4 separate regions of the Homo sapiens genome follow, and regions 1, 3 and 4 are each linked to region 2. The links come from fine-mapping of genetic effects on gene expression. A gene starts in region 2. Each other region holds a variant in brackets. All regions are shown on one strand. Distances are between the middles of the regions.

Region 1 (8,122 bases), 52 kb before region 2:
CCTCCCATTAGTGGGTAAGAAAGCCTATTTGTTCATATCTTCACAAACACTAAATATTAGAAATATTTACAATTGTGGTCAAGCTCATAAGTGAAAATGGTATTTCATATCTTATATTTTTTATTGTGAGATTGAACATCTTTCATATGTTTACATGTCACCTGTATTTCTTATTCTCTGAACTATATGTTATGACCTTTCACTTTTTTTCCTCATGGGTTATGTGTAGTTTGTATAGTTGTCTTATTGATTGTTAGGAGCTATTTATATATTAGGAACATTAATCTCCTGTCTTATATATACGTGGCATCGATTAGTTGATCATTTGTGAGTTCATGTCTGTATACAAAGATTGGAGAGGCACTAAGAGGGAAAACTTACCTCTTTCTTATCAAAGTTTGTAAATATATGTATAACAGAAGAGGGAGAAAATATTAATAAATGCACAGATTGGCTGAAATAGAGTATAAATCTTTTACTCCCCTACTTCAACATAAACTGCAAAAGGAGAGTGACTTTTCTTTCACTCTGACTTCCGTATTCCTCATGCTTAAAATAGTGCCTAGCACAGAAGAGGTGCTCAATCAGTGTTTGCTAAACGAAATAATTAGTCACATTTCAAGCAGGATGACTAAATGAAGAATAGAATCTAGGCAGATACTCTGGAAGAGTGGCTGTGAGTCATTCATATCTTAGTATGAATTAGTCAAATCCAACTCTCTCCCCTTCCCACTCCCCACTGTTAGTAGAAGAATCTGTTTATTGAGAGAATAGATTTATAATTTAGAATAAGTGAGAGGGGCAGAAGAGGAGATTTTGAAGGATGGCACCTGAAGGAGGACTAGCATGGCTGAGACAGTGAAGTGGAAGCCTTGAATAGCTAAAGGGTAAGATGAAAGTATTTAGCTGTAGGGGGAAAAAGCATTGACAGGTTGGAAAAGTAAAAGTCAGATTCTCCTTGCTCTGAAATTTTGTACAGGGCAGGTTCTACTAGGTATGTTACAATGCAGAAAAAACATGAAATAATTGAGAGGAATTTGGTGCAATATTATCTTCTTGGCTTCTTTTGAGTGGGCAGATTTTTTTCACGGCCTGTAACTATAATAAATTTGAAACTTCTCATCTTTTAGTAACTTTTTTCACTTAAGTTTATGTGGCTGTGGGCAATGGAATGAAGATATTGAACTTCCAATTCCCTGTTGGGTTTCCACAATTACAAGTCAATCATGACTGGTTATTAGAAGACTATTTCAGTTAGAACCACCAAGTCCCATATTGTCATATTGTATGTTTAATTATTAAGTGAAGCAGTCTTCTTTTCGTGTTTTCCATAATTAGGGCATTCCAGAAAGATGAGGATATTTGCTGTCTTTATATTCATGACCTACTGGCATTTGCTGAACGGTAAGACACCAAATCCTTCCATTAGGTTCTATATTTTAAATATTTTAACCATGAGTTTAAAACTAAAATGATCATTTAAAATGCATGCAATTTTCTTATAGAGAGAACATTCTATTCTTTCTTCTACTTTACACAATGGCAAAGTCTTCTTTCTACTTTACGCAATGATAAAGTTACCTGTGTCATTTTGTAAAAATATAGAGAATATAGACAAATTGAAAGACACAAAATAATCTATTACCCATTTCCCAGGGTTAACTACTGAAAATATCTGGGGAAATGGCCTGTATGTATACATTTATTTGTTTGCTTTCAACAAGGCCAAGATCCTTTGATCTTTCAGTCTTGGTTGCTCTGTGACATGCCTTTCCTGATGAGGATACTTTAAGGAAGAATTGTAAGATACATGGAAAATGTCAGGCTAACACAGTACTGGCATCACCCTGTGCTCTTTCCTGAACTCCATACCAATGTACTTCTTGCCAGAAAACTGATCAAAAGTTTAGGGAAGTAAAAAGAGATGACTGTTAGAATCTACCATTCCCTCTATGTAGGAAGCAAATAGGTGTCCTGTCAAAGGACATTCTGGGGATGTCTACATGAAACCAAGTCTCCCTGGTTGTAAGGACTCCATCTCCATATAATATTTATACAGTAATATATGTTTATAAATTGTGGGGGCAACTTGTTTAGCTAATTTTATTATTCTGCTATTGGGACACTGTGTCTCAGCATGAGATATAGTGTCCCAAAACATATTTCAAGCCCATTGGATAAAATATGTGTTTAGCAAGTTCTTAAATATAATGATAACATAACCGACCAGATAAAGTGATTTATAAACGCTGTGCCAATTTTGTAAATGTTTCGAGGAATTTTCCCTTTTCTGAAGATTGTCCTTCTTTCTTTTTAGCATTTACTGTCACGGTTCCCAAGGACCTATATGTGGTAGAGTATGGTAGCAATATGACAATTGAATGCAAATTCCCAGTAGAAAAACAATTAGACCTGGCTGCACTAATTGTCTATTGGGAAATGGAGGATAAGAACATTATTCAATTTGTGCATGGAGAGGAAGACCTGAAGGTTCAGCATAGTAGCTACAGACAGAGGGCCCGGCTGTTGAAGGACCAGCTCTCCCTGGGAAATGCTGCACTTCAGATCACAGATGTGAAATTGCAGGATGCAGGGGTGTACCGCTGCATGATCAGCTATGGTGGTGCCGACTACAAGCGAATTACTGTGAAAGTCAATGGTAAGAATTATTATAGATGAGAGGCCTGATCTTTATTGAAAACATATTCCAAGTGTTGAAGACTTTTCATTCTTGTAAGTCCATACTTATTTTCAAACAGAACAGCATAGTCTGTTCATTCATTCATTCAATTCATGAATTCATTCACATAATTATCCAATTTCTTGAGCACCTATTTGATAGTCACTGGAAATCCAGAGACAAACAACACAGAGCCATGTTCTACAGTATGTACAGTTTTCCAAAAAGAATTTCTAGTCTTTACTTTTTTATTACAAATGGAATACGTATACTTGCAAATAATTCAGATACTGTGGAAGAGATCAAATGAATTGCAAAAGTGTCCCTCCTCCCTTCACCACTATCTCCCATGGCATGCAGAGAGAGTAACCATTATTTGTGTGTCCCTCCAGAAATTTTTTTATTCAACTACTATTTTTTTATTTTATTAGGTCCGTCAGTTTTCCTTTTTTGAGCCTCTCTATATCAAATGCAAATAAATATATTCAGAACAAACCCCACTGTAAGGTTCACATTAAAAAAGACTTGAAGTCACCCTATGAAGACAAAAAATAATCACATTAAGTGTGAAAGAACCTATTCTTCCAGTACAGGATAAGCCATACTTACTGGGCATATATTCATCTTGAAAATCTATACTGATGTTGTCTTGGGGAATTGAAAAGGAACTAGGAGTGTTAGTTCCTCGGTATTGACCCACAGTTATGTTATCAGGTCACTTGAGTTCAAAGTTTTGTGTTGGCACTAGCTAAGTAAAGGAAAACACCTCTGCTTTCATTGTTGAGTTTCACAGAATTGAGAGCTGAAAGGATCCCAGGCAGGAGCAGCTAATCCAAACTCCCACAAAGAACAAAAATCCCCCAGAGGATCTTCTGTTCTTATATTTCCTGCAATGGCGTCCCTGTCATATCCCACAATGGCCTCCCTGCCATTTGGATATCCCTTCCATATCCTGTTGAAATTACTCCCTAATAGTAAGCTGAAATCTGCCCCTCTAGTTGTAGTCTTGGGATTATTTCATTTACATGATGACCTTTTAATATTTGACTAGAATTAAATCATCTCCCCTTGGTCTTTCCATTCCTGGGCTAACTACCATCAATCTGAGGGCTAACAATACAAGTAGAAAAAGTATACATTTGTCACTGATCACTGATCAATTATTAATCAATGATCACTGATAACTATAAACTCAAAAACAAAATCATGTGGGGATTAAGAGAAATGTATCAGTTTTATGTTGTATTTCTGGTCCCTGATACTGGCTCAGGTAATGCCACTATTGTCAAGAAGATACCACTTGTAAAGTAGATTTAATTTTCATTATATTTTACCATATGCTTCTCCATTCATGACATCTCTTGAGATGTTGTGGTTTATACTTTCAGTTTTTCTCCAGTCCATCCGCAAATATCAGGCATCTACTGTGTTCCAAGATATTAAAGAAATCATCATGACTTAGCCTCATCAACAGCATTGCTAGATCTGGGATGGAAAGGAAGAGTATAATCCTGGCAGTCAGGAAGAAGGCAGCATAAAGTATAAGTTTCTGCTTCCAAAAAAGGTCTCTCATCAGCCTGTAGGGAGTGTGTAGGGAAGGGACAGCTGTCCTTGTAGTAGGGAAGGGTTTTATTCAGGTCGTCTGGGCTCCATAATATCCCTTGTGTATCTGCAGTCTCCTTTGCCATGGATCAACACAATAGGAAATCTTCCGGCACTGATGGTTTTTCCAAGGGGGAGTTCTTCCTGGAGCAAAGCAAATGACCAACCAGGTTTGAGGACCTGATTTGTTTGACAATTCCATTTTGTATTGTAAATTACTTAATTGGCATTCTACTCCCAATCCATCTTGTCATTTGCATACAGTGGTTTTGGGATTGAGTTCAGCTATACCAAAAGTCTGAACCTTCTGCACTTAGAACAAGGCAACCACCAAGCTTCACTTGCACTGAGGCCGTGTCTCCAATGGAAATGAGG[C/T]AGCTGGCTTGCAGGAGCTTCCCAACTCAGGGAAGTAGAACTCCTGAGTCACCTCCATATGCAAATGATTTCACAGTAATGCTGTTGAACTTCACTTCCCATCACAGCAAATGTGTGGTAACATAGCTTCCCCACAGGAGTTTACTCACCATGGTATTTTAAAGGTGAAACATTTCAAAACTGAAATTTGAAAGAATTTAGTTTTGGATTCACTCAATTATCACTATCACTTCGGGTGTTATTGCACCTTTCTTGTTTGTGAGTTTAAATGCCAGACTCTCAGGCCACTAACTTTCAATTAAAAGTGTTTTTCTTTAATCGCTGAACCTAACAGCAGGGAAAACGAAATGTTCATTCAGACTTTCAGAACCTTCAATGAGATTAGGCAGCTGAAAGATCAAAGTGTTGCATAGTTGTCCCGATAAAGCTATTTGGATCATATGGACCAAATCGACTGCTGTCATTCCCCACCAACCCCATCTCTCCCCAAAATTCCCAGCCCTGTTTAAGTGTTCTCTGTAGCATTTATCTCTATCTAGTATATTGTGTAGCATATCATATCATACTTTTCTGTTTTGTTTATTGTCTCTCTCCTCCTAGAATATAAACTCCACAAGCACAAAGATTTGGGCCTGTTTTATAATATTGTTGCATCCCCAGGGCCTGATATACAGCAGAGTGGTGGTACGAAAAGAGCACACAAAAAAATATTTGTTGAGTCAATGAATGAATGATTTCCTCAAATAGGATTAGCCTAAAATTTTGGAAACATGAACAGATTTGGATATGTGAAAATTTATTTCCAGACTGTTCATCAGGAACTGTTAGCAGCTTCTAAAGGGTACACTGGAGCAGCAGTAGTAAAAGGAGGAAGAGGAGCAGCTCTGCTACTGCTACTATCGAGTACTACTACAATTAGCACTTGCTTATTCTGTGTGTTAGGCCCTGTACTGAACACTCTGTCTAAATTAGTTCATTTCCTCCTGGAAATGACTCTAGGGGGTAAGTGCTTCATCATGTAAGATGAGTATTTTTCACATTTTGTTGTGTCTGAAATCTGAGTGTGTCTTTCAATGATGGAATCTTTGATTCCATGATAAGTGGTATTATTCCCATTTTAAGGATGAGGAAACTGAGGTCCAAAGAAATTAAGTAATTTGCCCAAATTCACCCAGCCTAGAAAATGATAAAGCTAGTTCTAAACCCAAGCAGATTAGCTCTGAAGTCTGGGCCCTTAATAACCACTTTTTATTGCCTATATTTGTACCTCTGGTGTACGTATCAAGTTATATGTTGACTTCAAAACTATCATGACCTTTTCTTGGTTTTGATTGTCCAACATTAGTATAGTGTTCTGGGTCTGCAAAAATTTTGATTACTCATCTCATCTGTAAAACATTTTGAACTCGTGTGTTTGTGCATGCACATTTGTGTGTAATTATAAAAATTTTACTTTCTGTTAATATATAAGTTGTATCATAAGAAACTGCCGTTTTTGAAGAGCAAAAAAAGGTTGAATGTTACCAGTTACATCTGGTTCAACCTAATAGACATTTGTACAAAAACAGACATTTTAAGAGGTTGAAATAAAAATTTAATAAACAATATTTTCAGTTTTTACTAATTGTGATGCTTCACTATCATTAGCTAATATGTCAAGGCATAATATACCTTAGGGTGAACTTTATCATTAACAAAGGTGGATGGTGTCAATAATCTTGAGGTTTGTGTTTTTTTATATAACACTGCGAGGTCTAATTAAGTACTTACTGTTTACCACCTCATACAGTGGCCGATAAAAAGTGTCACTTCTGCTGTTTCCTCTGGGTTGTGCTTGAATTATTAGTATTATCTTCAGTCCTCAGTTTCTTTGTGGGAAACTTTTTAATTAGTTGTTTAATTTTGTAAGATGGTTAGTTTAGTCAAAATTAGATAAGAGAATTTGAAAATCCGTAGCTACCCCAAAGCAACCTACACATAAGAACTATTATTTTTGTGTTTTGAAATCATAATTTTATTGATTTCCAGTGTTTCCACTGGTAGTGGTTTCATTGATATAGGAGTATCAAAACATCACTCATTATTTATTTCAGTTTCATTTGATCCTAGCCGTTTTGTATTAACTCTCTGTGAAGAAATTACCTCACAAATCTATTGCTGTCCTTGGTAAAGGAATGGAGAATTAAGGCTCTAGATCATTAGTGGTTACACTATAGTATTAGAAGTAAAAAAAAGATTATACCAACAAAATAAGAACATGTTAATGTACTTGTAATGAATAAACATGAATAAAGCTCTTATGCTATATAGGTGCACTAAACAATCTACTAGAATTGTCAGCAAACTACGTATCTTAATCCTGAAAGGGTCCCAAACCAATGATCTAAAATTGAATCAAACTTTCTTCCTTGAGCATAATTACTTAAATGATTTATTAAAATAGCCAGCATTTAAAAGCTTAAAATGTAAATATCATAATGTGGTATCCTAGATAGCATCCCAGAACAGAAAAAGGATATTAGGGAAAAACTGGAGGAATGGAATAAATTATGCAGTTTAGTTATTAATAATGTACTAACGTCCTTAGTTATGACGATTGTACCATGGTAATGTAAGATACTAACAATAGAGGAAACCGGGTAAGGAGTATACAGTAACTCTATACTATCTTTGCAACTTTTTTGTAAATTTAAAACTTCTAAAATAAAGAACAAATTTAAACATTAAAAAGTATCACCAGGAACATATATCACTGTTTACAGATGAAATACTATGTATTTTCATATCTAATTTCTGATCATTGACTTCAAATCAGAAAAGTGAATGACACCTCAAAATCAGGTTTTCTGTTTACTGAAGTCTAAGAAAAGAAAGCATACCAGCTGGAGAGATTCATGTTTATAAAGACAGATTTATAACAACAAAAATAAAATATCCAAGAATAAATTTAAGAAGAAGCACTTTACTGAGAAACATATGAAAACCTGAACAAATGGAGAGGGATATTTTGTATTTGAATAGAAAGACTTCTGGTTTAAAGATAATTCTCTTTAAATTATTTTTTGTAGAAATTTAAGGGGTACAAGAGCAGTGTTGTCACATGGATATATTACATAGTGGTGAAGTCTGGGGTTTTAGTGTAAATTAATCTTTACATTTTGTTTGAGCCCAATAAATGTACCAACATGATTTTTATAGAAAGATAGTCATTCCTATTAATCCAAACTTGTCCCAACTTTGAATTGAATTGAGGCAGAGCTAGCAGGTGTTCCCCACGGCTGAGGCATCTGAACATTAAGCATATCCCTCTGAGAACCAGCCTGCATTGATACTCTTTCTAATGTGGACAGCATCAAGCTATGTACGTAGTTCTGTGCTCAGCAAAAGCCCTGACTTCTTTTTGTTTATGTCCTAGCCCCATACAACAAAATCAACCAAAGAATTTTGGTTGTGGATCCAGTCACC
Region 2 (8,145 bases):
TCATGGATAGGAAGAATCAATATCATTAAAACGACCAAAGCGGTTTATAGATTCAATGCTGTTTCCACCAAACTACCAGTGATATTCTTCACTGAACTAGAAAAAAATATTTTAAAATTTATATGGAACCAACAAAGAGCCCAAATAGCCAAGGCAATCAAAGCAAAAAGAACAAAGCCAGAGGCATCATCCTACCAGACTTCAAACTATACTACAAGGGTACAGTAACCAAAACACCATGGTTCTGGTACAAAAACAGACACATAGACCAATGGAACAGAATAGAGAACCCAGAAATAAGGCTGCACACCTACAATTATCTGATCTTTGACAAAGCTGACAAAAACAAGCAATGGAGAAAGGACTTCCTACTCAATAAATGGGGCTGGGATAACTGGCTAGCCATATACAGAAGATGGAAACTAGACTCCTTCCTTACACCAGATACAGAAATCAACTTAAGATGGATTAACAACTTAAATGTAAAACCTAAAACTATAAAAAACCCTGGAAGACAATATAGGCAATACCATTCTGGACATAGAAGTGAGTGAAGATTTCATGACAAAGACACCAAAAGCAATTGCAACAAAAGCAAAAATTGACAAATGGGATCTAATTAAACTAAAGAGCTTCTACACAGCAACAGAAACTATCAACAAAGTAAACACACAACCTACAGAATGGGAGAAAAGTTTTGCAAACTATGCATCTGACAAAGGTCTAATATCCAGTATCTATAAGGAACTTAAACAAATTTACAAGAAGAAAACAAACAACCCAATTAAAAAGTGGGCAAAGGACATGAACAGGCGTTTTTCAAAAGAAGACATACACATGGCCAACAAGCATATAAAAAAGCTCAATATTACTTATCATTAAAGAAATGCAAATCCAAATCACAATGAGAGATCCTCTCACACCAGTCAGAATGGCTATTATTAAAAAGTTAATAAGTTGGCCGGGTGCGGTGGCTCACACCTGTAATCCCAGCACTTTGGAAGGCTGAGGCAGGTAGATCACAAGGTCAGGAGATCCAGACCATCCAGGCTAACATGGTGAAACCCCGTCTCTGCTAAAAATACAAAAAAATTAGCCGGGCGTGGTGGCGGGCGCCTGTAGTCCCAGCTACTCAGGAGGCTGAGGCAGGAGAATGGCATGAACCCAGGAGGTGGAGCTTGCAGTGAGCTGAGATCTCACCACTGTACTCCAGCCTGGAAGACAGAGTGAGACTCCATCTCAAAAAAAAAAAGTTAATAAACAACATGCTGACAAGGTTATGGAGAAAAGGGAATGCTTATACACTATTGGTGGAGTGTAAATTAGTTCAACCATTATGGAAAGCAGTGTGGCAATTCCTCAAAGAGCTAAAAACAGAACTACCATTCAATCCAGCAATCCCATTACTGGGTATATACCCAAAGAAATGTAAATCATTCTATCACAAAGACACATGCACACACATGTTCATCATAGCACTATTCACAATAGCAAAGACATGGAATCAACCTAAATGCCCATCAACGACAGACTGGATAAAGAAAATGTGGTACATATACACCAAGGAATACTATAGAGCCGTAAAAAAGAGCATGTCCTTTGCGGGAACATGGATGGAGCTGGAAGTCATTATGCTTAGCAAATTAATGCAGGAACAGAAAACCAAATACCACATGTGTTCACATATAAGTGGGAGCTAAGTGATAAGAACACATGGACACAAAGAGGGGAACAACACAAACTGGAGCCTAGCTGAGGGTGGAGGCCCCAGGGAGGAGGGAGATGAGCAAAAAAAAAAAAAAAAAAAAAAAAAAAAAAAAAAAAAATGACTGGGTTCTAGGCTTAGTATCTAGGGGACAAAATAATCTGTATGACAAACCTCCATGACACGAGTTTACCTATGTAAAATAAAAGTTTAACAAAAAACTAAAAAAGTTACCTATGTAAAACAAAAGTTTAACAAAAAACTAAAAAAAGTTACCTCCACCCAGAAATGCCTTTATTAACACTTTGGTTTGTAACCCTCCATTATTTTCTCTAGACATATAGATTTATGAGGCAGGCTAATGTGCTGAGACACTAGCTTGAGTTTCATTTGGCCTTGCTGTGAATATACCTGGGCCTTCCTTTGCTTCAGGATGCCCTAAACTGTGGCAAAGCAGAGCTGAACTGCCCAAAGGAAAGTGTGAAGAGGAGAGGCAGGCCAAGCCTGGAGAAAGGCTACCCAAGAGAGAGGAAAGGAAACTGTGGTGAGTGCACCTCACTCCTAAAGAAGGACAGGAACTCTGGTAGGTGAGGTGTGTTTTCCATAGATACTAAAACTCAAAGCCACACAGGGGACATATGTCCATTCCTCAGCCAGTCACTGTGGCCAGGAACAGAGGGTCAGGTAAGAGAATGGCAACTCCTAAGGAAACCACATGCCTGGAGCCGTGGGTGTAGAAGCAGATCCCCAGAGGAAGCACGGGTCCCACAGACACAGTCCCAACTCTTGCCGTCTAGGCAGCCACTCCCATCTGTAGGTACTACACAGCTTCGTAGTACTTCTTAAAGTACTTCTTGTTCAAGCGATGGGACGAAAAGAGGATGCAGGACAAGGAGGAGGAAAGGAGATCCTTGCTTTTGTAGAAGAAACAAGGAGGCAGGGAAGGCTTAGAGGACAGGCAAGGAGAGATGTTTTCTTAAAAACATCCTCTGTCTGAGTGTTCAGCCCCACATCTCTGCTGGTCCTACCCCTATAAGCACAAGGAAAAGGGCGGGAGGCAGCAGGAGAAGGATTGATCATTCAGGCCTATATTCAAGTTTGCCTTTTCTTGCCATGTGGTTTTAATCTCACCAATCACAAGCCTGAAGGTATAGTGGGGCCACTGAGGTCCGAGTTCAAATTCAGCCATGCAACTAAGGAAACATTGTTTGATCTTGGTCCTGTTTTCTCATGTGTAAAATGGGTCTAACTCTAAACCACACATTGCACTGAGAATGAAATGAGGCACTATGAAATGAAGTGAGGTTAGTTGAATAATGTTCCCCCCAAATTCATGTCTACTGAGGACCTCAGAATGTGACTATATTTGGAAGTAGGGTCTACGCAGATGTAGTCTAAATGAGGTCATACTGCATTAGGGTGGGCACTAATCAAACGGATGGTATCCTCATAAGAGGAGAGGAATGTAGAGATACACACAGAAAAGAATGTCATTTGAAGATGGAGGCAGAGATTGGAGTGATACAACTATAAGTCAGGGAATGCCAAGGACTTGAGGTCATGTGTTACAGAAGCCCTAGGAAATGAGTCAATTTCCTGGCACAGCACTAAGACATGCTGGTATTCTTCATTCCATCCCTTTCCCCTATTCCTAAATGTGCTCCAGGGACAATGGGGAAGCTGGAGCACATATAAGAATAGGGGAAAGAGAGGGAATAAAAGGGTATTAAAAACTCTCAAGGTATGTTAAAAAAAAGACTCTCAACAAACCAGGTATTGAAGGAACATACCTCAAAATAATAAGAGCCATCTATGATGAACCCACAGCCAACATCACACTGAATAGGCAAAAGCTGGAAGGATGCCCCTTGAAAACCGGCACAAGACAAGGCTGCCTTCTCTCACCACTCCTATTCACCATACTATTGGAAGTCCTGGCCAGAGCAATCAGGCAAGAGAAAGAAAGAAAAGGCATCCAAGAAGGAAGAGAGGAAGTCAAACTACCCATGTTTGCAGATGACATAATTTTATATCTAGAAAATCCCACAGTCTCAGCCCAAAAGCTCCTTAAGCTGATAAACTTCAGAAAGTTTCAGGATCCCACATGAACATACAAAAATCACTAGTATTCCTAAACACCAACCATAGCTAAGCCAAGAGCCAAATCAGGAATGCAATCCCATTCACAGACAAACTGCTAAAAGCAAAACCAAAACTTTCCAAATAAGCCAGGCTTTCGTCAGTTCCTCAGAACTAGTTCTGGTTTGACTCACTCTCATGTTACGGCAAACCTTAAGCTGAATGAACAACTTTTCTTCTCTTGAATATATCTTAACGCCAAATTTTGAGTGCTTTTTTGTTACCCATCCTCATATGTCCCAGCTAGAAAGAATCCTGGGTTGGAGCTACTGCATGTTGATTGTTTTGTTTTTCCTTTTGGCTGTTCATTTTGGTGGCTACTATAAGGAAATCTAACACAAACAGCAACTGTTTTTTGTTGTTTACTTTTGCATCTTTACTTGTGGAGCTGTGGCAAGTCCTCATGTGAGTAACGAGTGGGTTGAGATACTCTCATACTATTATGTTGTGGACCATGATGAGGCTGCCAGGGTGGGGGAAGGGTGGCCTACCTTCTCTCCACACCATTTGAGGCAAGAGACATTCTGCCTCAGAAATTGTGCTGAGGGGCACAAATAAGCTAATGTCCTCCTGCCCCAGATTTCTCTCACTTGTTCCTATGCATATTGTTCTTGTTGCTCAGTTTTATAAGGTGAGATATTTTCTGCACCAAATATGTGCACTGTAAAATAATATAACTATTCTTAAGATTGTCTCTCAGCTTAGAGTTTTCGGAGGCTTAATGGTGAAGAACTTAAAAATCTGTTTTCCTATGACTGACATCTGTTTGTGATTATCCATTTAGCAGACGGTGATCCCTCCAGGCTGGCCTTTGTTTACAAGCTATGCCTAAGAGGCAGCTGTTGGTGGAGGGGGAACAAAAACAAAAAACCCAAAACTATTATCTTAATAACTTATAGAGGTAATCATTATTGAACAAAAGCATGATTTGGGGACTATGGAAAGGCTTATTCTTTCCATATAAAATGATCAGCGAAAAGGTAGAAAAATTAAACAGAACTGAAATAATTGCTATTGATTGCTCACCGCCTGGATGCACTGAGTAGAAGAGCAAAGGCAATGGGTTCATGTGGAGGGGATGGAGGTGGAGAGGCTAAGCCTGAGTGAGATTACCAACTAATCAGGACTTTTAACCCAAAAATACTATGGCTCTGAGGGGCAGGGAATGAGAGACCTAAATTGACAAAATGCAGAGTAAAAATATTCAGTGTGAGCAGTAATGAGACAGTTGTATCAGGGTCAAATACGGAGTTGGCCTGGATGTCCTCCAAGCTCCTTTCCAAGCCTAAGATTCTGTGAGTGGATGAACAATCCTGGTCCTGCTGCTCTTGCCACTGGAACCTGATCTATTTGCCTTCATTATTTGAGGTCTCCCCATCATCAGGCTCTTTGTTGTCTGCTGCTTCAGGGTGTCTTCTCCCCAGATTTCTCCTGTTGGTGAGCTTTTCCATTGAACTGGAGCTCCTCACAGGCAAGAAGCACACCTTTAAGGTTCTCTGAGTCCCAAGTTCCTAGTGCAGTACCTGGCAATACACATAGGTGCTTAGTGGGTGCTTGCCGAATTGTTGAATGGATTTATTTGATGAAATGTCAGGAGAATCACCAGAAATGAAATGTTCGTGTAATGGACAGGGGGAAGTTTGAGGTTGATTTGAAAAAGGAGATGGTAGAGACAGTATTATGGGTCATGCTTCAGAGTTTATTTGCTTTACAATACATTGGACAGCAACCAGTAGATTGTTGTGTGTCATTTTAATTCCACATGCTAATGTCCAAATATGTCATATGTCTTAATTGTTGCATACGTGGGTTACTCTGTAAAGGGGCAACTGTAGTATCACCTCCTCATGCCACACCCTGCTCCACTGTAGCTGGGCTCGATAACCTTCAAATCAACTCACAGAATTCCAGGACAGACAAGAGCATCTGAAAGGTTATCTAGCCCCAGTCACCTCTGATGCCTTCCAGCTGTCTCTAACACACCTGTGGGCTGACTTCCAGTTCTTAGTCTTCACGGCTCCCTATGATGAACTGCCCCTGCTTTGAGGGATTTTCCTCCATTGCCTCAGAAGTACTGCCCTGGGGGAGCTTCTGATGCTCTTCTGACCACCTTGTCTCTGCCTTTTTCACTAGTCCTCTGTTCCTGCTCTCCAAATTTTGGGACGTTCCTGAGTTCAGATCTTTTCTTTATAATCTTTCTTTTATATTCTCCCCATCAGATGGTTCATTCATTCCTCAATATTAACTAACATTTCCATATTAGAAATAACTTCCTTATCTTTAGCCCTAAATTTTGTCCCAAACTCTGGACCTACAATTTTTTGGAATGCTTATGCCTTGCCCAGACTAAAACCAAACTTACTGTCTTCCCTCTAAAATCAGCTCCCCATCTTCTATTTCTCCCTGCCACCCTTCCTCCCCCATGGCTCCAATATTGTCTTGCCAGTCTGGTCTTAAAACCACAGTCAATCTTGTTGCTTTTCTCTTTGTCTCTTGTGCATGGCTGATCAGCAGTCAATTGTTTTGTCAATTGTCTTATATGTTTCTTCTTCCTCTTCCTTGCTTCCTTTTTCTGACCTGAAGTTAGGGCCTTGTTACCAAACATCTAGATGAATACAGTGACCCCCTAATTGAGAGGCTGTCTACCAATTCCACCCACCCTCAATTCTATACTCAAAAAAAAAATTAGATGTAATCTTTTTCAGATACTCCTTTGGTATTGTCACTTAGTTTTTGAGTGACTGCCACTATTTCCCGATTGGCAGCTCTGCCTGGCATTAAGCTCTTGACATTCTCAACCTAAGTGTCCAGCCAAGTTACTCTGTTCATTGTCCCCTCAACACGCCTGTGCATTTGCACCTCTGAGACTGCTTCTGAGTCAGCTATGCACTGCCCTTTAGAATAGCTTCAACCCCAAATCCTACCAGTGCTTCAAAGGCCCAGTTCAAATCCTACCCCTCTGGGAAGTCTCCCTTCCTTTAGTCAACTTCTAGGGCTTTTGCAATTTTATCACTTGTTTTACATCAGTTTTACTATTTTTCATGTGTGAGAGTTTTAACCTTCCAATTATGGTACAATGTCTTTAAGGGCAAGGGCCCTTTCTTAGAGGAAACCCTCTATGAATTCTCCAATGATAAATTATTCTATGAATTCTCACAACTTTCTAATATAAAGGCTTATAAAAAGTGGGAACTCACTGTTTATTGCTTAAAAAATTGAGATTTAATTTGAACTTAAATGCTCTATTAAATTGAGTAGAATAGCATCTTAAGGCTACTGGTAGTCTATCTATGCCACAGATGGTTTAGAGATCAAATAATTACTCATATACCTATGACAGCAGAGTACTGGCTGTAAGATCCCCCCAAAACTCAAATACCTATTGGGTTTGTCAGGCAACAAAAATAAGTGAATCCAGCTAGGTCTAATACAATGGAAAATGGTAGGACCTGGGGCAAACTCTGCATAACTTGCCCAAAGGCATTCAAATTCAGATTATGTTCAGACATTGCTAATTACAATTAGTGTCTTAGACACTTGGCTTCAAAACAGTGGTTAGTTCAGGTATTTCAGATCAATTGGGTATGCATTTATCTAGGTCTTCATGGATAGCCGGGCTCTACTAGACACTGGGAGAGGGAAGAGGCAAATGGGATAAGACTGGCAGTATTTAACAAAGAATGAAGTATTTTACAAACATGATCCTTTAGGCTGGTTATTGTTACACAAAGGAATGATTTGCTAGGATTCTTGAGATACTTCCATAGAATGTCTATGCCTCACTTATTGCACAGACCAGAGAATTCCATAAAAGCACTGGCTGTGTCTTATTTACCCTTGTATACTAGAGCTTGGCACATAGTAAATACCAAGTAAATGTTTTGAATAAAAGAAAGAGATAATTAAAGCTTCAGCACCACAATTATTTGTATTTCATCTATCAGTTTGGAAATAGATCTCCACAGACAGTAGAAATGGCAAGAAACTAGGCCTATAGCAACCAAGAAGTGAAACTGCTAGAACCTACCATCATTTCTGATCCTCTTGCAAATTTTGCTTGAAAAAAATTTCCTCATTTTCTGTTTACGAACTTATCCTCAGAATTTACAGATGTTTCCTTGATTTCTCTGGAAAGATACAACTTCCTAATGCAATTGAGTAAATTGATACTTCTTATGTAGAAATAAGCAGAATAAGCTGGGCAAGGTAGCCCACAACTATAGTCCCAGCTACTTGGGAGGCTGGGGCAGGAGGATCACTTGAAGCCAGAGTTTGCTTGAGGCCAGGAATTCGAGGCTGCA
Region 3 (8,000 bases), 47 kb after region 2:
AAACAGGGGCCTGTATGAGATGAATTGAGAAATAACTTTACACCACTGATTATGTCAGTGTTCTATTCTGCATGGTAGAGATGTGAAAGGGCAGACTGACCATTGCTCTGGAAGCCTTTACGCTGTGAGAAGTTAACAGTGGAGTAAAATGGCCACTCCACTCTCTTCATGGAAGCCAACATGGCTTACTAAATAGTCAACAACCATGGGAGAGACCTGTGGGGTCTTCATCAGAGCTCAGGATCTCCTAGGGTATCACTCATAAATACAGCCATCAGGGAGATGGAGAAATCTTTGTGCAGCCAGAAATTCTCAACCTGGTTTTACCCATCCTTCCCAACTTTGTATTCGTCCTACTGTTTACTGACATGGATCCTCTGCTTCATTAACCATCCCTTCCTCACCACATGCTCTCTGAACTTGGCTGCACCTTTTCTACCTCCATGCCTTCTTTGCTCAGGTTTTTCCACATAAATATCATTATTTCCCTCTCTACTAGCTCCAAGCCCACCCTCTCTCTGGGGCAGCTCAGTCACTCCAGGGCACAAGGGGGTCTTTCCCTCATCCCACATTTTGAGACCTACTACCTGGACCATTTGTTTGCCTTGTAACTATGCTTGCCTTTTTAATTGCTATTTTATTTTCCATGTATTTTCATTGTTCACACAAGTCTTCTTTATTCCACACTAAGGCAAAAGCAGAGTCCTGTGTTCATAATAAGTGCTCAACAAATGTTGGGTTGATTGGGTTGGAGATTCCATCTTAGATAATCGCAGTCCCATCATGCCAGCTACCAGACTGTGTGGACAGCCAGGTCAGAGCAGCCAAATGATATTCTAGCTTGTGGCACAAATACCAGCAACAAAATAACCAAAGTCACACATCTGCCTCTGAGTTCCTGGCTTCTATTTCTCAAGGGCATTTTTAAGTTGTCTTATGACTGTTCCCTTTCTACTCATTCTCATAAATTGAGCTGTGGACTGCTGTGACCCACAAGCTTCTCCGGAAGTCAATGTATAAAACAAACACGGAAACGAAGAGTATGGTGGGTGGAGGGTACTCCACTGACTCTAGAATGGATGACTGAACATTCCAAATTTCAAGCACAAGTTAGGGAGCAACAGATCATTTTCCTTTTGAAATAGGGTTTCTTCTGCTCAGCCAGTTGTTGTATTTTCATTAGGAAATGGAATGGGACTACAGCACAAAAAATAAATATAAAAGGACCCTTGTAGGGCTGGCAGAAAAGAGAATCCTTCCTAGGAGACCTGGAGGTGATTCCAGGCAGTGGTTGAGAGCATGGGCTCTGATGTCAGACAGGCTTAAATTTCAAACTCTCTCTCTATTAGCTTTGAGAACCTAAATATCCTACTTAGCCACTCTAGCACTCAGTCTCTCATGTGTAGCATGAGGGTGAGTAGTGGTAGACAGTTTATAGGGTTATAGTGAGGATTAAATGAAATGTGCTTATAAAGTGCTTAGTACTCAGAAAGTGTGCAAACAGTAAAAAAAAATGGTATATCTAGCAAGTTGCATGCCTTACTTGTGAGTTCATGAAGTTGTGGCAAGGATAAGACAAATATTTTTTGCCATTGCATCATTATATCATTGCTAAGAGTATGCCATTATTGGCCAGGTGCGGTGGCTCATGCCTGTAATCCTAGCACTTTGGGAGGCTGAGATGGGTGGATTGCTTGAGGCCAGGAGTTCAAAAATCAGCCTGGCTAACATGGTGAAACCCCGTCTCTACTAAAAATACAAAAAATTAGCCAGGCATGGTGGCAGGTGCCTGTAATCCCAGCTACTCAAGAGGCCGAGGCAGGAGAATCACTTGAACCCAGGAGGCGGAGGTTGCAGTGAGCCAAGATCATGCCACTGCACTCCAGCCTGGGCAACAAGAGGGAAACTCCTTCTCAAATAAATAAATTAATTAATTAAATTAAAGAAACGACAAAAGAGTATGCAAGAATTTTAAAACAACTTAGAGGAATATGTATGAGGATACAGGCTAAGCTACCATAATGAAGAGACCTCGAAATACAGTGAGAAGCGAGACAGAAGTATCTTTCGTTCCATGTAACACTCAGGTGGTTCAGAGCAGCTAAGCAGCTATGTTCCATAGAGTCATTCAGTGATCCAGATTATTTTCATCTGTTGCTCTGCCATTCTCCAGGATGTTGTCCCTATAAAATTGTCAAAGCTCAGTCAGTGCCAAACCCATGTTTCAACCTTCAGAAAGTAAACGAGTGGTGGAAAACACATTCAATGTTTTAAGGCCAAGACCTTGAAAACTCACTCTCTTAGCCTGAACTTAGATTACATGGCTGGGCCCACTTAACTATAGGGGAGGCTTGGAAACATAGTCTCTGAGAAGCCATGTGTCCAGCTAATTCCCTAATACTAAAGTTGAAAGAAAGAATGGATTAACCAGCAGTATACCACAAGGTAACAAATGACTAGGAGGATCAGGCTAGGTGGACTAGAAAAGAGACAGTCAATTCAGTGCAACAATTCCATATTGGCACTTTTCATGTAGCTGTTGCTTGGCTCTATCTAGAGAGGACTCAGAGGTAGTTTAGATAAGGCCTTTGCCCTCCAAATACAGTCTAAGCAGACTGATTTCCTACTGGATGTTCAACTTTGGAGTCTTCAGGGATGAGTAGGGCTTCTGTACGTGGAAGAGACTATGAGGGAACCTGCACAGGACAAGGGTTTGCATAAAGACACTGAGGTAGGGACCTCTCCTGTTGTGGGGACAGTGAGAGGCCCAGGTCTCCTTGACTCACAAAGTGCTTACTAAGCACTTACTAGAAATTAAGAAGCAGATTATAATCAATATGGGTTATCCAATGTTTGGATGAGCAAGGCTCCTTATCTTTTCTTCGTTAATGTTAATCACACTCTTTTGGATGGAGACAAATATCTGTGGGGGCTGAGCTTTGGGTCAGATAGATCTGGGTTTGCAATCCTGGCATTGACTTTTACTTAGCAGTGATGACCTCACATAGATTATTTAGCAACTCTGAGACTTACTTCCTCAACTCTAAAATGAGGGGCTCAGACTAAATAATGTCTAATCTCTTCTCCAGTAAAACAATCCGTGGTTCTCAGATAGCACTGTGCTGGAGGTAGTGGGGTTTGAGGGCTGGGAAGTTGGGAGGACTGAGCCCTTCCCGCTGAGCAGTTTCGTCCAGTTTTTCCTGTACCAGCCTGTCATGTTTATTCCATGTGAATGACTCCAGAGGCAAAATTCAAGCTTTTGAATAGGGCACAAATTAACTTGAGTACCCTTTCATTTCCCTGTAGGTGAACACTCCTCTAGCCCTGCCTTTTGTCAGTCTGGAGCCCTTGTTCTAATCTGTACACACCAGAGGACTTTACAAGGCTTTCCCCAGCCTCCAGAATTATTCTTCTGATCCACCCTCTACTAAACTCACCCTTTCCTCAGTGCTAGGACGTTGAAAAACCGAAACAAGGCAAAGGGCCAATTGTAATAATTCACACTAAGGCATGAGTGACTAGGTTTAGTATATTAACACTACCTAGGATATTCTATTTCTTCCAAAAGGATCCTGTTAATCCTTGAAATTTAACAACTAATGGTATAGATTCTAAGCACTGTGAGTACTTGTCAGTGGGGGAAAGACATTTTTGGGCTGAGAGACTTTGCCACTGGGAAGAGAGAGAGGATGAGGAGGAGAAGGGGGATAGGGAGGAAAAAGAGAAAAAAGAAAGAAAGATGATTAGATGATAGATGGATGGATTGATGGATGGATGGAAAAAAATAACATGAGAGAGTGGTAAAAAGCACAGAATCTGGAACCAGACTGTATCTTAGCTGGGTCACTTACTATGTAACTTAGGGAAAGCTTCCTAGTCTCTCTGTGCCTCCCTTTCTTCACCAGTGAAATGGGGATCATAGCAGAGCCAACTTCACAGAGTGGTTGCGAGGAGTGGATGAGCTGATAGGTGCAGAGCACTTAGAATAGGGCCTGGTGTGGAGTAAATGCTCCACAGAGCTAGCCGTGTTGGCTGTCACCCACTCATGTGGCCAGCCTGTTGGTCTACCTCTTAGTTGCCATGTAACAGGATTCTGGTGCTTTTCCTTTGCCCAGGTCAGATGGAACCCAGGACCCATCCAACTTGGCTGCTTCACATTTTCATCCCCTTCTGCATCATTGCTTTCATTTTCATAGCCACAGTGA[T/C]AGCCCTAAGAAAACAACTCTGTCAAAAGCTGTATTCTTCAAAAGGTAAGTGAGTTTTATTCATGGTAACCCAATGCACTGGGTGTCTGCAGCATGAGCCACTGCTTTGCACTGCAGGCCTATGGCTTGCTGCTTTCATGCTAAACCCACTCAGAGCTTATGAACCACTTTGAGCTTGTCTTGATGATTATTTTTCCCCAGAAGAAAATGGCTCTCATCGTCAGTGAGCTGAACTTCTTACACTGAGTTTTTTAAAGGGAATGTTTTGTTCTTATGTCTGAAAGAGTTTGTCTTATTCTTTGAGCCAAGAGCTTTCATCAGCCTCATGAGAGTGATGTTATTTTGGCAATGCAGAGAGCTACGTGCTCCGATTTTGCTGGTGGGAGGTTGCCAGGATCCTTTCTGAGGATTCCTTCCATTTTCACCCCTCTTTTCCCCAGTCTGGATATGACCTGGGTTAAACCCACCCCCTCTCCCAGGAATCTCAACCTCACGGTTGGGTAAGGAAAGGAGAAAGGTTTGTGAGGCCATTTGGGGATAAGGAAACAGCTGGTTGGTGGTGCATTAACGTCTTTCAGCAGCTCCCTTCGAGTTTCTCCTTAGCCTGTTGTATTCTTACCAACACACTCCTGTTCTGTTGTACCAGCTGGGACAGAGCATGCTGAAGCCTTTCAGCCCTGATTTCATTGCTTCATTGTTCATGTGTCTGTCTTTGGTTTCCTGGGTGGAGCCTGCCCACAAAACCCCCAGAATGTATGCAGGCCTAGCTGGTGCTTTCCTAAACGGCTCCCTTGTCTGCACTCAATGAACTTCTCCAAAGATCTATACATGGCCTCATCTATAGAAAGAGAAATGACATGTGGAAATAATTCAGTAGGAGTTTGCAGCAGCACTATCTGAGGACTAGGGGAATTTTAAGTGGTTGTTATCTTACATTTATACTCATAACTTCTATATTTTCATCTGCCATAAAATATTGTCATGTTCTATTTGTCCATTGCCCTATGTGTGTATGTATTCACTTGGGTGCTGACCACAATATTTCTAACTGTAGAATGCAAGGAATTGTTGCCAAAAGAAAAAGACAGAGGGAGGGAAGAAGATGGCCAGGGGAGTGAGGGAGAAAGAGAAAACAGGAGATGGAGAAGAAGAAAGATAGAAAGAAAAATAAATGTGGGAGGGAAGGGAGCTTCATGGTAAAGGAGGAGGTATGTCCAACAGAACTTCGACTTTTAAATAGAACCACTTCAGAGAGTTGTGTCAGGTGCACCTCAGTTGTCTTATCTTCTGCCATTCTTCTTTTACCTCTCACACCCATACCTCAGGGTTCAAGGCCTGGGGCCTGAGGACTCCTTAATAACTTCAGAAATGAGCAGCTGAGTGTTCCGTTCCAGCTGTCTTTGGGAGAATGGAATGGAGTCACACTCAAAGATAGAGTGGAAATAAATCCTCTCCTCATCCTTCACCCCAATCTTAAGAGTGAGTGAGGATATCAGTAGCTCCGAGCTGGGAGGTAAAGCTCAAGTTCTAACTGTGATTAGGAGACCTTTCTTACAAATAAGAATTAAGTGAATAAATGTGCAAACAATTTCTTTTATATTTTTAATGAACCAGAGAGAAATCATGGTTGCCTATATAACCCTTGTCTCCAACTCACTTGCATTCAGATCTGCTTTCTTACATGTGTCTGCCATGCACACAAACTTGTGTGCCATGGAAAAGGGTTGAGAACTGCTGGTGATGCAGACAGAGCTTTAAACCAGGGTCAGAGGGCTAGGCTGGGACCTTGTGCTGCCATTTGTTGGCTTTCTGACCTTGTACAAATTGCCTATCTTCTTTGAGATGGTCTTTCTATCTGTAAAAGGGGAAGCAGCAAGAGAAGGAACATTTTACAGCTTATTGGCCGAACTTCACTGCCGCTAGTGTGGTTCAACTTGGACTACAGAGAAATCTTCCTAACTGGTTTCCCTGTATTCACTCCTGCTACCTCCAACTTGGTCTGTTCTCACTTTTTGCTATAATAGGCTTTTAAAAATCATAAATCTACCATGTGTCCTCTGTCCAGACCTTCTCCATGGCTTCTTATTGCTCACTGGATGAAGTTCCAACGAGCCCAGGATGGTTTGACTCATGTCTCCAGCTTTAACTGCATCACCATCACCTTCATTGTCTAAAGCTCTAACCACACAGGATTTTCTAGTCCTCAGAGGCATGGCAGTCTTTCAATTCCGAGTTTTCTCATACAATATTGTCTCTTCTTAAAATATTTTTTCTTGTTGTCCACCTGAGTTGGAGTCATCTTTTAAATCTCAGCTAAGCTTATACTTCATCAAGTCTTTCCTAATTCTACCTCCACGCACCACACCCATTACATTAAATCCCCTTATTATATGTTTCCATAGCACCTACTTCTTCTTTCAGTATACTCAGCACACAATCACATGTCTAGGATCTGTTTTAATAGCTTGGACTACCAATTAAATTGCATCCCTTTTAATTTTCCAATTGATTCCTCAAGTACCCACATGCCCATCTTAGCAAGAAGTTCAGTGTCTCCCTCTTATAGCATGTACTTCTCCACCTCCCACAAACTGCCAGAAAGCTTACTTAGCCCACAGGGCCAGTGCTAGGCAGCTAGGTTAGTCCTCCAGAGGGCCCTGGTTTTGAGCAGTTGCTGTCTACTCCGGCCATGCAGAATCTCTGGTCCTTCCAGATGTCTCCATCCACTGTGCAAAGGTAACCTTGCTGGTTCCGATCCCCACACAGACCACAGTGCTACAAGATTACAGTTCTTATGGTTCCCCAACACATGCTCTGTCATTGGTCCCAAAGCAGGACCCCTATGGGTTGATGAGGTAGGAGGAGGTCCCTGCCTTAGCCACAGCTGCACACAGCCAGCCTCTTCCCTTCTAGGCCCTCATGTTGAGCCTGGGACGCCAGTCCTAACTTCCTTCTCTTCAGTTCCTCTTAGGGCCATTGGTATCCTGAATTTCTTAGTCCATTGCAAAGTTAAGTAAAGAAGCAGCAGGCTTGGTCCCTTTCCTTCCAGATGGCTTCTTAGCTCCTGAACAGATTTACCCACCTATACCTCAGTGACTAGCTCTGTGTACTAAAGTGTATTGGGAGGGCAGCCATTATTGGTCCATAAAAGGTCCTGCTTACCATTTTCCCCTAAGAGGAACCATTCAACAGTTTGGGGCTCGAGGGTGACCTGCTGGGCTCTAGAGAAGAAGCTGGCAACTTCTGTTGCAAAATAATGTTAAATTCTGCTTCATCTGCTTGTCTTTACGTTTCAAGAATACAGTAACTGTGTTTCTCTGATTCACCAATATATGCCCAGTGTCTAAAAAATTACCTGGCATATAATAAATGTTCAATGAAATTTTAAACATTGAACCTACTATATGCAGGTGAGTATGCTAGATCTGCTCTGTCCAATATAATAGCCATCTGTGGCTCTTTTTAAGTTAAATAAAAATTCATCAGTCACATCTTAAGTATTCACACACTGTAAGTGCTCAATAGCCATGTACAGATAATTGCTCCTGTATTGGACAGTACAGATATACAACATTTCCATCATTGCAGAAAGTTCTACTGAAAACCACTGTGCTAGACCCTTTACAAACTTCTCATTTAATTTCACAAAAATTGCTTGTGGCAAGGAGAAGTGTCTTTATGCTGGAGTTAAGAAAGTGAGGCTCAGAAAAGTTATATGACTTCCCAAAGTCATACAGCTGGGATTTGAATACAGGTCTGTTTGACTCCAAAACTTGTGGCCTATTTGTTGCAAAA
Region 4 (8,126 bases), 40 kb before region 2:
CAGTCATAATCTCCTCTCCTTTTAAAGAATGCTGGTTCCCCTTTGCCTCACAGCTAACACAAGAACTCCTCCACCGTCTGAGGAGGTTTAGGAGCAGGGAAGGGGAAGGAGTCAGCTTCATTTGCTAATCTTCTGTTGCCCTGCACCCTAGCAGCTCCTTGCAGCAGGGGACAAGGATGACTTAGGTGGATGGATAATTAATTGATTCTAAAATATTGTGTGTCAGTATTGTAATACTATGTTAATTGCACCATGCACGGTATCTCATTTAATCCCCCACCCCTTGCCATTACCAAAGAGAGAGAGAGAGAGAGAGAGAGAAATACTAGAATTTATCCTCATTTTACAGTAGAGAAAACAGAGGGTCAAGAAGATAATGTAAAGTGCCCAAGAACACACAGCTGATCACAAAAATCAAGCTTGGGGGCCATTAGCCTAACCACAGACCCTTACTCTTAACCCATCTGCTTCAATCCATTTTGCTACAAATGTTTACATTTATAAGCAGGGCAGAAAAACCTCATCCAGGTTATTGAACTAAGAAGAAAGTTATATTAAGGTTTCTAATTTTTTTAATGTAGTTAGAAACCAAACTTAACAATGAGCCCAAGTTTAAAGCAGTCTAATTAACCTGGACAAGCTCAGGCAAGTTTCATTCTGTGGCCCATAGCATCATCTGTGTTGTAAAGCTAAGTAGCAAATGTTGTTTGGGTCATGCTGGGGGACAAGCCATCCCAATTTGCTCAGGACTGAGGGGTTTTCCAGGATATCATGTAAGGATAATTGGGTACAAATATAACCTGCTGCTTTCTCTCATTTCAAATTTATCATTTATCATATCAGCAACTATGAGTTATGTTTTTTATTAGATTTCTTGTTACTTTTTCCCCAGACCACTTCCCATGAAATTAATATACTATTATCACTCTCCAGATACACATTTGGAGGAGACGTAATCCAGCATTGGAACTTCTGATCTTCAAGCAGGGATTCTCAACCTGTGGTTTAGGGGTTCATCGGGGCTGAGCGTGACAAGAGGAAGGAATGGGCCCGTGGGATGCAGGCAATGTGGGACTTAAAAGGCCCAAGCACTGAAAATGGAACCTGGCGAAAGCAGAGGAGGAGAATGAAGAAAGATGGAGTCAAACAGGGAGCCTGGAGGGAGACCTTGATACTTTCAAATGCCTGAGGGGCTCATCGACGCCTGTGACAGGGAGAAAGGATACTTCTGAACAAGGAGCCTCCAAGCAAATCATCCATTGCTCATCCTAGGAAGACGGGTTGAGAATCCCTAATTTGAGGGTCAGTTCCTGCAGAAGTGCCCTTTGCCTCCACTCAATGCCTCAATTTGTTTTCTGCATGACTGAGAGTCTCAGTGTTGGAACGGGACAGTATTTATGTATGAGTTTTTCCTATTTATTTTGAGTCTGTGAGGTCTTCTTGTCATGTGAGTGTGGTTGTGAATGATTTCTTTTGAAGATATATTGTAGTAGATGTTACAATTTTGTCGCCAAACTAAACTTGCTGCTTAATGATTTGCTCACATCTAGTAAAACATGGAGTATTTGTAAGGTGCTTGGTCTCCTCTATAACTACAAGTATACATTGGAAGCATAAAGATCAAACCGTTGGTTGCATAGGATGTCACCTTTATTTAACCCATTAATACTCTGGTTGACCTAATCTTATTCTCAGACCTCAAGTGTCTGTGCAGTATCTGTTCCATTTAAATATCAGCTTTACAATTATGTGGTAGCCTACACACATAATCTCATTTCATCGCTGTAACCACCCTGTTGTGATAACCACTATTATTTTACCCATCGTACAGCTGAGGAAGCAAACAGATTAAGTAACTTGCCCAAACCAGTAAATAGCAGACCTCAGACTGCCACCCACTGTCCTTTTATAATACAATTTACAGCTATATTTTACTTTAAGCAATTCTTTTATTCAAAAACCATTTATTAAGTGCCCTTGCAATATCAATCGCTGTGCCAGGCATTGAATCTACAGATGTGAGCAAGACAAAGTACCTGTCCTCAAGGAGCTCATAGTATAATGAGGAGATTAACAAGAAAATGTATTATTACAATTTAGTCCAGTGTCATAGCATAAGGATGATGCGAGGGGAAAACCCGAGCAGTGTTGCCAAGAGGAGGAAATAGGCCAATGTGGTCTGGGACGGTTGGATATACTTAAACATCTTAATAATCAGAGTAATTTTCATTTACAAAGAGAGGTCGGTACTTAAAATAACCCTGAAAAATAACACTGGAATTCCTTTTCTAGCATTATATTTATTCCTGATTTGCCTTTGCCATATAATCTAATGCTTGTTTATATAGTGTCTGGTATTGTTTAACAGTTCTGTCTTTTCTATTTAAATGCCACTAAATTTTAAATTCATACCTTTCCATGATTCAAAATTCAAAAGATCCCATGGGAGATGGTTGGAAAATCTCCACTTCATCCTCCAAGCCATTCAAGTTTCCTTTCCAGAAGCAACTGCTACTGCCTTTCATTCATATGTTCTTCTAAAGATAGTCTACATTTGGAAATGTATGTTAAAAGCACGTATTTTTAAAATTTTTTTCCTAAATAGTAACACATTGTATGTCTGCTGTGTACTTTGCTATTTTTATTTATTTTAGTGTTTCTTATATAGCAGATGGAATGAATTTGAAGTTCCCAGGGCTGAGGATCCATGCCTTCTTTGTTTCTAAGTTATCTTTCCCATAGCTTTTCATTATCTTTCATATGATCCAGTATATGTTAAATATGTCCTACATATACATTTAGACAACCACCATTTGTTAAGTATTTGCTCTAGGACAGAGTTTGGATTTGTTTATGTTTGCTCAAAAGGAGACCCATGGGCTCTCCAGGGTGCACTGAGTCAATCTAGTCCTAAAAAGCAATCTTATTATTAACTCTGTATGACAGAATCATGTCTGGAACTTTTGTTTTCTGCTTTCTGTCAAGTATAAACTTCACTTTGATGCTGTACTTGCAAAATCACATTTTCTTTCTGGAAATTCCGGCAGTGTACCTTGACTGCTAGCTACCCTGTGCCAGAAAAGCCTCATTCGTTGTGCTTGAACCCTTGAATGCCACCAGCTGTCATCACTACACAGCCCTCCTAAGAGGCTTCCTGGAGGTTTCGAGATTCAGATGCCCTGGGAGATCCCAGAGTTTCCTTTCCCTCTTGGCCATATTCTGGTGTCAATGACAAGGAGTACCTTGGCTTTGCCACATGTCAAGGCTGAAGAAACAGTGTCTCCAACAGAGCTCCTTGTGTTATCTGTTTGTACATGTGCATTTGTACAGTAATTGGTGTGACAGTGTTCTTTGTGTGAATTACAGGCAAGAATTGTGGCTGAGCAAGGCACATAGTCTACTCAGTCTATTCCTAAGTCCTAACTCCTCCTTGTGGTGTTGGATTTGTAAGGCACTTTATCCCTTTTGTCTCATGTTTCATCGTAAATGGCATAGGCAGAGATGATACCTAATTCTGCATTTGATTGTCACTTTTTGTACCTGCATTAATTTAATAAAATATTCTTATTTATTTTGTTACTTGGTACACCAGCATGTCCATTTTCTTGTTTATTTTGTGTTTAATAAAATGTTCAGTTTAACATCCCAGTGGAGAAAGTTACTTGGAATATTTGCAGCCTTGTTCCTAGTTCTTTTTTCATTGCTTATACAGCATGTTTTTATACAGCATGCTTTTGAATCCTGCACAATGAAAAAAGTATCAAAAGATTTTATTTTAAAAAAGAATGTATTGAAAATTTTCATTCTCTCTCATTCGGCAGCTTCCTTTAGGACCATACCAAGAAGAGTCAAAATCCTGTCATCTACATTGAAGATCTAAGGGAGAGAGGGTGGGAGAGAAGGAGTGGAACCCAATAGAACTATAGGGAAACAAAGGGACTTACCTCTAAGAAAGTACTTTTCCCAGATCTGTAAACGGGTATGCAATCCAGTGTGTAGGAAGATAGATGTATTGCAGTCTTCAAGTTTTGAAAATAAAGCGAGGAAACTAGAACTAAGCCAAGTTGAGGATTAAGGGCTAGCAATGGTTAGGACCATAGATCTGTGGTTTTAAACAAGCATGACAAAACTTATCATTCAAGGAAGTATAGACCTTTTAATGTGTCATCCGGTGAGATTTTAGTCATGAAATTCCATTTTAAAAGACTATCACTTATTTGAATCAGATACTCTTAAAGGATTATAATGGCTATTTCTAAGAATATGTGTTTGACTCTAGATGCTTTTGTTTGTTTGTTTTTGAGACAGAGTTTTGCTCTTGTCACCCAGGCTGGAGTGCAATGGCACTATCTCAGCTCACTGCAACCTCCGCCTCCAGGTTCAACTGATTCTCCTGCCTCAGCCCCTCGAGTAGCTGGGATTACAGGCACCTGCCACCACTCCTGGCTAATTTTTGTACTTTTAGTAGAGACAGGGTTTCACAATGTTGGCCAGGCTGATCTCGAACTCCTGACCTCAGGTGATCCACCCATCTCAGCCTCCCAAAGGGCTGGGATTACAGGTGTGAGCCACGGTGCCTGGCCTCTGGATGTTTTCAGTAGTAATGATGATGCACTATTTATGCTAGCCCTTGGGCAGTCAAAGCAATAAAAATGTGTGCTAGACATCAAGATATCTGGCCTTCCTAATCAGGAAAGGATATGGAGAACTAGTCTTCCTGGCTTGCCTTGGTGGTATGGAAATTTTGTGACACTTGAGGGGTCTGTATTATAGAAAAGTTAATATGAAAATGGTTCATAAGCTTTCATTAAACTTTTGTTCTAGTCCCTTTTACAAGTGTGTGCCTGTCTGCCACAAGTAGGCCTAATATATTTTTTAAGTTTTATTTTTAATTGACATATAATTGACTTTTTTTTAT[T/G]ATTATACTTTAAGTTCTAGGGTACATGTGCACAAAATGTAGGTTTGTTACATATGTATACATGTGCCATGTTGGTGTGCTGCACCCATTAACTCGTCATTTACATTAGGTACATCTCCTAATACTATCCCTCCCTCCTCCCCGTACCCCACGACAGGCCCCGGTGTGTGATGTTCCCCATCCTGTGTCCAAGTGTTCTCATTGTTCATTTCCCACCTATGAGTGAGAACATGCGGTGTTTGGTTTTTTGTCCTTGCAATAGTTTGCTGAGAATGGTTTCCAGCTTCATCCACGTCCCTACAAAGGACATGAACTCATCCTTTTCTATGGCTGCATAGTATTCCATGGGGTATATGTGCCACATTTTCTTACTCCAGTCTATCATTGGTGGACATTTGGGTTGGTTCCAAGTCTTTGCTATTGTGAATAGTGCTGCAATAAACATACATGTGCATGTGTCTTTATAGCAGCATGATTTATAATCCTTTGGGTATATACCCAGTAATGGGATGGCTGGGTCAAATGGTATTTCTAGTTCTAGATCCCTGAGGAATTGCCACACTGTCTTCCACAATGGTTGAACTAGTTTACACTCCCACCAACAGTGTAAAAGCGTTCCTATTTCTCCACATCCTCTCCAGCACCTGTTGTTTCCTGACTTTTTAATGATCGCCATTCTAACTGGTGTGAGATGGTATCTCATTGTGGTTTTGATTTGTATTTCTCTGATGGCCAGTGATGGTGAGCTTTTTTTCATGTGTCTGTTGGCTGCATAAATGTCTTCTTTTGAGAAGTGTCTGTTCATATCCTTCACCCACTTTTTGATGGGGTTGTTTGATTTTTTCTTGTAGATTTGTTTAAGTTCTTTGTAGATTCTGGATATTAGCCCTTTGTCAGATGGGTAGATTGTAAAAATGTTCTCCCATTCTGTAGGTTGCCTGTTCACTCTGATGGTAGTTTCTTTTGCTGTGCAGAAGCTCTTTAGTTTAATTAGATCCCATTTGTCAATTTTGGCTTTTGTTGCCATTGCTTCCAGTGTTTTAGTCATGAAGTCCTTGCCCATGCCTATGTCCTGAATGGTATTGCTTAGGTTTTCTTCTAGGGTATTTATGGTTTTAGGTCTAACATTTAAGTCTTTAATCCATCTTGAATTAATTTTTGTATAAGGTGTAAGGAAGGGATCCAGTTTCAGCTTTCTACATATGGCTAGCCAGTTTTCCCAGCACCATTTATTAAATAGGGAATCCTTTCCCCATTTCTTGTTTTTGTCAGGTTTGTCAAAGATCAGATGGTTGTGGATGTGTGGTATTATTTCTGAGGGCTCTGTTCTGTTCCATTGGTCTAGATCTCTGTTTCAGTACCAGTACCATGCTGTTGTGGTTACTGTAGCCCTATAGTATAGTTTGAAGTCAGGTAGCGTGATGCCTCCAGCTTTTTTCTTTTGGCTTAGGATTGTCTTGGCAATGCAGGCTCTTTTTTGATTCCATATGAACTTTAAAGTAGTTTTTTCCAATTCTGTGAAGAAAGTCATTGGTAACTTGATGGGGATGGCATTGAATCTATAAATTACCTTGGGCAGTAGGGCCATTTCACGATATTGATTCTTCCTATCCATGAGCATGGAATGTTCTTCCTTCGGTTTGTGTCCTCTTTTATTTCATTGAGCAGTGGTTTGTAGTTCTCCTTGAAGAGGTCCTTCACATCCCTTATAAGATGGATTCCTAGGTATTTTATTCTCTTTGAAGCAATTGTGAATGGGAGTTCACTCATGATTTGGCTCTGTGTTTGTCTGTTGTTGGTGTATAGGAACGCTTGTGATTTTTGCACATTGATTTTGTATCCTGAGACTTTGCTGAAGTTGCTTATCAGCTTAAGGAGATTTTGCGCTGAGACGATGGGGATTTCTAAATACACAATCATGTCATCTGCAAACAGGGACAATTTGACTTCCTCTTTTCCTAACTGAATACCCTTTATTTCTTTCTCTTGTCTGACTGCCCTGGCCAGAACTTCCAACACTGTGTTGAATAGGAGTGGTGAGAGAGGACATCCCTGTCTTGTGCCAGTTTTCCAAGGGAATTCTTCCAGTTTTTGCCCATTCAGTATGATATTGGCTGTGGATTTGTCATAACTAGCTCTTATTATTTTGAGATACGTCCCATCAATACCTAGTTTATTGAGAGTTTTTAGCATGAAGCGCTGTTGAATTTTGTCGAAGGCCTTTTCTGCATCTATTGAGATAAACATATAGTTTTTGTCTTTGGTTCTGTTTATATGATGGATTACGTTTATTGATTTGCGTTACGTTGAACCAGCCTTGCATCCCAGGGATGAAGCCAACTTCATGGTGGTGGATAAGCTTTTTGATGTGCTGCTGGATTCAGTTTGCCAGTATTTTACTGAGGATTTTTGCATCGACGTTCATCAGGGATATTGGTCTAAAATTCTCTTTTTTTGTTGTGTCTCTGCCAGGCTTTGGTATCAGGATGATGCTGGCCTTATAAAATGAGTCAGGGAGGATTCCCTCTTTTTCTATTGATTAGCATAGTTTCAGAAGGAATGGTACCAGCTCCTCTTTGTACCTCTGGTAGAATTCAGCTGTGAATCCATCTTGTCCTGGACTTTTTTTGGTTGGTAGGCTATTAATTATTGCCTCAATTTCAGAGCATGTTATTGGTCTATTCAGAGATTCAAATTCTTCCTGGTTTAGTCTTGGGAGGGTGTATGTGTCCAGGAATTTATCCATTTCTTCTAGATTTTCTAGTTTATTTACGTAGAGGTATTTATATTATTCTCTGATAGTAGTTTGTATTTCTGTGGGATCAGTAGTGATATCCCCTTTATCATTTTTTATTGCATCTATTTGATTTTTCTCTCTTTTCTTCTTTATTAGTCTTGCTAGCGGTCTATCAATTTTGTTGATCTTTTCAAAAAACCAGCTCCTGGATTCATTGATTTTTTGAAGGGTTTTTCATGGCTCTATCTCCTCCAGTTCTGCTCTGATCTTAGTTATTTCTTGCCTTCTGCTAGCTTTTGAATGTGTTTGCTCTTGCTTCTCTAGTTCTTTTAATTGTGAGGTTAAGGTGTCAATTTTAGATCTTTCCTGGTTTCTCTTGTGGGCATTTAGTGCTCTAAATTTCCCTCTCCACACTGCTTTAAATGTGTCCCAGAGATTCTGGTATGTTGTGTCTTTGTTCTCGTTGGTTTC

What was found. PIP is the estimated chance that this variant, and not a neighbour inherited with it, causes the effect.
Region 1: its variant is fine-mapped to the expression of PDCD1LG2 in whole blood (TOPMed, PIP above 0.99).
Region 3: its variant is fine-mapped to the expression of PDCD1LG2 in whole blood (TOPMed, PIP 0.96).
Region 4: its variant is fine-mapped to the expression of PDCD1LG2 in whole blood (TOPMed, PIP above 0.99).

Annotation. Positions count from the first base shown.
Region 1 is chr9:5,454,762-5,462,883 of GRCh38, forward strand. It overlaps CD274 (CD274 molecule), which reads left to right. Exons shown (of 7, transcript NM_014143.4): 2 at 1,339-1,404; 3 at 2,318-2,659; 4 at 8,073-8,122. The coding sequence starts at 1,353. INCR1 (interferon stimulated noncoding RNA 1) reads right to left here. Exons shown (of 3, transcript XR_007061406.1): 3 at 2,670-4,426. Among named protein-coding and RNA genes, the nearest start is that of CD274, 8.3 kb to the left of the region's middle. RefSeq lists a silencer at 4,488-4,782 and enhancers at 4,488-4,782, 4,699-4,758. The variant C/T (reference allele first, on the strand shown) is at 4,658.
Region 2 is chr9:5,506,555-5,514,699 of GRCh38, forward strand. It overlaps PDCD1LG2 (programmed cell death 1 ligand 2), which reads left to right and starts at 3,977. Exons shown (of 7, transcript NM_025239.4): 1 at 3,977-4,249. All of the region lies in intron 2 of INCR1 (interferon stimulated noncoding RNA 1), which reads right to left. RefSeq lists enhancers at 2,525-3,724, 3,666-3,745, 3,806-3,865, 4,026-4,075.
Region 3 is chr9:5,553,503-5,561,502 of GRCh38, forward strand. PDCD1LG2 (programmed cell death 1 ligand 2) reads left to right here. Exons shown (of 7, transcript NM_025239.4): 5 at 4,116-4,250. The region is part of intron 1 of INCR1 (interferon stimulated noncoding RNA 1); the gene reads right to left. Among named protein-coding and RNA genes, the nearest start is that of PDCD1LG2, 47 kb to the left of the region's middle. The variant T/C (reference allele first, on the strand shown) is at 4,206.
Region 4 is chr9:5,466,907-5,475,032 of GRCh38, forward strand. It overlaps CD274 (CD274 molecule), which reads left to right. Exons shown (of 7, transcript NM_014143.4): 7 at 934-3,648. The coding sequence ends at 956. The region is part of intron 2 of INCR1 (interferon stimulated noncoding RNA 1); the gene reads right to left. Among named protein-coding and RNA genes, the nearest start is that of CD274, 20 kb to the left of the region's middle. The variant T/G (reference allele first, on the strand shown) is at 4,919.